Linked DNA regions of Homo sapiens: region 1 is linked to region 2. Evidence: fine-mapped expression QTL. A gene starts in region 2. The other region holds a variant in brackets. All regions are shown on one strand. Distances are from middle to middle.

Region 1 (2,914 bases), 74 kb before region 2:
ACTCCAACACATCTGACACACATGAGCGAGGCCAGGACAGTATCTGCTACAGCTTCATAAGATGCCGTTGCTCCTTTCCAGAATCAACAGGAGCAAGTGAAATTTTATATATCTGAAAGAATCTGGCACAGTGCCAGGTGCTCAGAGGGTCCTCGATAAATAAATGTCTCATATTATCTTGTATGTTGTTCAAACAGAGGGTTGAGTCCACAGGGTTCTTTGGAAGGGTTCTGGATCACTCACCTAATCATATGGAAAAGCTGAGCATCTGAAACCATCCCAATAAACTTTATTCATCAGGGAAGAAGGGAGGGAGAGAAATGAGACTAAAATGAGCTTGCAGCACACGCAGCATGGATCATGAGGTCGGCCTGTTCTCTGACGCACTTCCTTGTTGTTGTTTGTCTGTTGTCTTAGAATCAGATAGACCCTGTTACAAGATTATAGATCCCCTTATCTGCTCTAGAGATAACAACTAGAACCTTATGAAATGTTGTTTTCCTTTGAGATATTCTTTCACGTCCTACATGCCACTAAAACCACCCACATCAGCAGGTCTGAAGGACCCCCCAAGAAGCTGACTCACCAAAGCACACAGGCTCCACATCCTGATAATTTCATCCTCCTCACCCTGACCAATCAATGACCCCAATTTTCCAGCCCCTCATCCTCCAAGATCCCCTTTAAAACCCCAACTCAGAACTCTCGGGGAGATGGATTTGAGGGTCTTCTCCCATCTCCTCACTAGGAGCCCTGCAATCATTAAACTCTTTCTCTGCTGCCTCCTGGCTGTCTCAGTGCATTGGCCTGTTACTACACAGTGGGCATATGAACCTGTTGGTCCTATAACACATCGGCCTTGAGATATAAAGGGTCCAGGGCTGCTCTGGTTCCAGAGATATCAGCAGCAGGAGTTCATGGACCTTCTGTTTAAACATTGCCATTGAAGGTCACAACTGCAGTCACCATCCATCACTGTGTATCTATGGTCAAGATTCAATGTCTAGGGAAAAAGATTCCGAGTGCTCTTAGTCTTAAGTTCACCCCTATAGTCAGGGCTGGGTTGTGGGAAGCCTTGCACCAAACCACGAAGAGCAGGCTGGCAACTCAAAGAAGGGATGCAGGGCCATAACCCATAAAAAGCAAGGGTTATAATAGCCCTCCTACCCTTCTTCTCACCCAGTGCATACATACTTCCTTATTT[G/C]CATAAATACAACTTCACAGTGGAGACCCACCCTTTCTACAGTGGAAAATAACCTGAAGTCTCCTCCAGCTATTGCAACTAAAGGCAATGGAGTTGCACTTCCCAAGTCCAAACCTCTAGATGATGTCCATTTCTTCCCTGGCTCCGTTGCTTCTTCCATAACAGGCACATGATCCCAGGGGACCACTGACAATAACTTGATTGGCTGTTTCACCACAGCTCGCCCTGGGCTGCTATTCCTGTTCCCATCCCAGAATATGAATAGGAGACTCATTGATTTCCACATTGATCTTTCCTAAAAGGTCCACAAAGGATGAGATACTGATCAGGCAAATGCAAGACATACCCACCATGCCTACTTATAAGGGAGACTCAGTGGGAATTCCCTCCCAGAGAAGTGAGGGTTTCATTGGAGACACAGACCTTCTTCAAGAACCCTGGAACCACCGACATTCAATGTGTGTGATTTCCAGTGAGTAATGGAGAAAAGGTCAAAGTGAAATCATGCAATTTCATAACTTCTGGTCCCTCAATTAGCTGGTAACACAGTGGCCCAAATGTCAGAATCCTGTCTGTCAAATGGTCCAGGGCTGCTGCAATACCCCCCCGACCCAGCCCTGCACTGGCCAGACTTCTGGGGGAGTCCCCTGAGAGCAGCCGCTGTGACTGCCAGCTGCTTCTATATGGGATGCAAAGACTGAGGCCACTTAGAACACCTGTGCTTCAGGATTTTAAGACAGGATTCTTCCTGCTTTGGATTTGGCTCTGGTAACAATTAAATCCTATACCCACTCAGGTACAGTGTCAAATCTCCACCTGCAGAGAAAGGAATTTTGTAAACTAAAATTTGTCAGACTTGCGAACATGGAAAATATTACTTCTGTTTCATCTTAGATGACCAACATTACCAGTGAAGAAGGAAATAAAGCATAGCAGTAAAATAATCCAATAGGTTTGGAAACAGCAGTGAAGTTATAGTCTTTTTATTTTAAAAATAGCACATGCCTGTCCCTAAGCATTCGAGCCCCAGGCTTCACTGCAGGGGATGGCCTGGCTGTCCATAAATCACCTGCCTTGTAAAGTGGCTCTGATCAAAGGCCAGTGTGTTGCCTTGATAGACTTATATGCACTTTGGAGAATAGACATACTTAGTTGTTCGCTTCTATTTTTTATTTTCTTTCCCCAATCCAGTCCTTAAAACAGATTTCCCCTCAAAGAAATTTTATTGTAATTTTAGAAAAATCTCCAACTGCAACTATGTGTAAATCACAACGGGTAACTGCCAGGTTTCATGTTATCAAAATAGCCAAGAATGCTTTGCAGCTGAGCTATAAGCATGTGATATTAATTACACGGAGGAACGCTGTGCTTGGGAAACAAGTTTGGATGAGAAAGTCTGACACTGAAAATGTGCTTGAAATAAGGGATACTCTGGCAACGACATTTATTCTATTTTCCACTTTAATAAATGATACCTTTCTGCAGCTCACTTTAATCCTCAGATAAATGAAGTGAAATAAATGTATCAGTGTGGAAACACCATATCTTCACAGTGATTCAGCTTTGAAGCTGAGGAGGGGCAAGGATGCCTCGGTTCCTGTTTTACTGTGAGGCCTGGGAAGCAGCAGGAGAGGCTGCCCCATGACTCTGACACCCTACGACTCCCAGCCAGGAGCAGATGCCTCCAACGCTGTCCGTTCTTTCCATAGC
Region 2 (2,914 bases):
AGGCTGGTCTTGAACTCCCGGGCTCAAGCGATACCCCCTGCCTTGGCCTCCCAAACCGTTGGGATCCCAAGGCGTTTGCCACCTCTCCCGGTCTGCTTTACTTCTTTTCAGACTTCACGATGCACAGTGTGTTCTTCACGGCAGCTGCACACATGCTGGTTTTCTTCAGAAACACGGAAAATGCCCCATAATGCAATCCCCAAGCAACCTGCTCTAGGTCATCTGGGTTTGTTTTTTTGAGACAGAGTCTTGCTCTGTCCCCCAGGCAGGAGTGCAGCGGCGCGATCTCGGCTCACTGCAGCCTCTGCCTCCCGGGTTCAAGAGATTCTCCAGCCTCAGCCTCCCGAGTAGCTGAGATTACAGGCGTCCGCCACCGCGCCCAGCTAATTTTAGTAGAGACGGGGTTTCACCATGTTGGCCAGGCTGGTTTTGAACTCCTGACCTCAGGTGATCCACCCGCCTCGGCCTCCCATGGTGCTGGGGTCAGGCGTGAGCCACCGTGCCAGGCCACTGTCGTCTGGGTTTTCATCTCTGGCTTCAGGTTCAGAGAGGGCAGGGTTTGAAGCCTGGCCCGGCCTCAGTGCCCTCAATGGCGATGGTGAAGATGACCGGCTAGAGGTGCTGCGCCCACGAAACGCCAGCTCTAGTGGCGTCCGGAGCGCCGGCTCCACCGGCTAGGCGGTCGGCGGAGTTCTAGGACGACAACTACTCACAAGGGCTGGGCGATCACCTCCCACGCCACGGGACGGAGACGCCACAGCCCCTTCAACTTTCAGTTACAAACGTTCGTGCCCTGTTACGTCCACAGCATTAAGCTGGCTGTCGTGGGGCAAACAAAAACGTTGAGTCCGAGTCTTACGGGGGGTCGGGTCAACAACCCCAGCAAACATGGAGAGAAAATTCAAAGCGGGTCTCACGGGCGTGCGGGGCTCGGCGGCGCTCGGGGCACGGGATCCGTTCTCTCCGCAAATGCGCGCTGCCGGGGCTGCGCCGCGGGCTGCCCCGGTCGACCCCTCTCAACTCCGAGGCTACTTCGAGCCAGTCACCCGGGACTGGCTGACGTGGTCCAGGTTGGCCCCGTCCGGCTCTCCCCGCCCGTACCAACCCCACATTCCGCCCTCCTACCCGGCAAAGCGGACGAAGCCCCCACCGGCTGGTGCCCGCGGGCACCGAACTTAGCGGAACGCCTCCCGGCTCGGACCAGACGCCCCTGAGGAGTGACGCCCGCGAGCCTCAAACGTCTCAGGCGGGCCTGCCGGGTGCTCTCCCCGTCTCCCAGGAAGCCGCCCGTCAGCCGGCGGCGCCAACCGCCACCGCCGCACTTACCCGGGAAGGCAAAAGTGGCCGCGGGCACCCAACCGCCGTCACTCCCTTCAGGGAGCTGACTAGCGCGCTCGAAGCGACCGCCTCGCCTGCCCCGCCACAGCGTTCGGCTACGACGCACGCGCGCGCAGGCCACGCCCCCCGGGTGCGCGGGCCGGGCCGCAGAGCACGCCGGGAGCGTGGGTCTCCCAGCCCGCCACATCCCAGGGCTGTACGCGCGGACTAGCGGAGCTAGGGGAAGGTGCCAGGGTGGCCGCCGCCTCAGTAGCACGCGGACGGCTGGAAAGTCAGCCCCCGTTTCCGCCTCACCCAGGATTGCTCCACTCGGGGCCTTTCCGCATCCCAGCCACCACTCCATTCCGAGGCGCGATCAGCTCTGACCAGTCTTCCTCACACCCATAGTCGATTCGTTACTCCCGTTAAGGTCAAACGCTGACAGAAACCAGCCGCTTCGCACACTTCTACATGGGGTCAAGCCCCCTGTTATCTTTGCGGGGATGATTGTAACAATCACTTAAATGGTCGCTTCGTACCATCTTGCCCCCGCCTGGGCCTTGTCGGCGACGCCGCAGCCACGTGGATGCTGTGGAAGCCTGTCCCCTGGATCTTCCAAAGGCTCCGCGCTCATTGCCACAGCCAGCGGCCGGCAGTGGCCTAGGCTGTTGCACGCGATCGGTCCCCCACATCTCCCCTCTCCATCTGGCTCCTTTCCCTGGAAGCCCAGGGCAGCCCACACTTCGCTGTCCTCACCCCCACTCACCAGGCGGGACCCCACGACGACCGGCTTTTGTCCTGGCTGCTCCCTCCCAGCGTGGGCCGCGTCTCCTCGGGGTCGACAGGGCGCGTGGTTTTCACAGCGAGGCCTCCCCTGATCACCTCCCCGCTCTTCCTGTCCTTCCCCGGTCACCTCACGAGCTATGGATGTATCTGTGTCTCCTCACTGCGCTATAAGCTCCCAGGTGAAGAAAGGGTTGCTTTTTGTAAATTTTTGTTTTAACCGTGAACCTCTTGTGTATGAATAATGCTCAGAAAAAAAAAAATTTCTTAAATGAATGAATCTTCCCCAAGCCCAGTGCAGTTGGCACCTGCCCTCTTTTCTGTCACGGTACATACAAGGAAATACATTCCACAAAACCACATAGTCGCTGTCATTTATCACAAGTGTTTCCCCAAATTACAAAGTCTTAATACTTCTTTGTCTCCTAATTTTTTAGCTGTGTTTTTAAAAAACATTTCTTTACATGCCATAAAATTCACTCATTTGAAGTGTACCATTCAATCATTTTCAGTAATTTTAAAACCATTTGCAACCATCACTATAATTTAAGAACATTTCCATTATCCCCCTGAAAAGTATTTGCACAGTTATAGTTGAGGTAGGAGATCAGCAGGACTTTCCAAGCACTGATCACCACCTGCTGAGCAAAACAGGATCTGGTCAGAACAGGATGCCCTAAAAAAACGGCCAAAACTGCCCTAAAGAAACAGGCCCAAGCCAGCTAAAACCAGGATGGTGACCAAAGTGACCTCTAGTGCCCTCACTGCTCATTATACACTAATTATAATACATGAACATGCTACAACACTTCCA

Direction of the effects. Positions count from the first base shown, and alleles are read on the strand shown. Sizes are in standard deviations (SD) of each study's normalised expression.
In carriers of allele G in region 1, the expression in cerebellar hemisphere of the gene that starts at base 1,431 in region 2 tends to be lower than with C alone (small effect, 0.27 SD a copy in GTEx).

The links. PIP is the estimated chance that this variant, and not a neighbour inherited with it, causes the effect.
Region 1: its variant is fine-mapped to the expression of TEX30 in cerebellar hemisphere (GTEx, PIP 0.95).

The regions. Positions count from the first base shown.
Region 1 is chr13:102,697,998-102,700,911 of GRCh38, forward strand. It overlaps a transcript of METTL21C not described here. Among named protein-coding and RNA genes, the nearest start is that of METTL21C, 4.4 kb to the left of the region's middle. The variant G/C (reference allele first, on the strand shown) is at 1,205.
Region 2 is chr13:102,772,356-102,775,269 of GRCh38, forward strand. It overlaps TEX30 (testis expressed 30), which reads right to left and starts at 1,431. Exons shown (of 6, transcript NM_138779.5): 1 at 1,327-1,431. RefSeq lists enhancers at 1,186-1,863, 1,864-2,541 and a silencer at 1,264-1,603.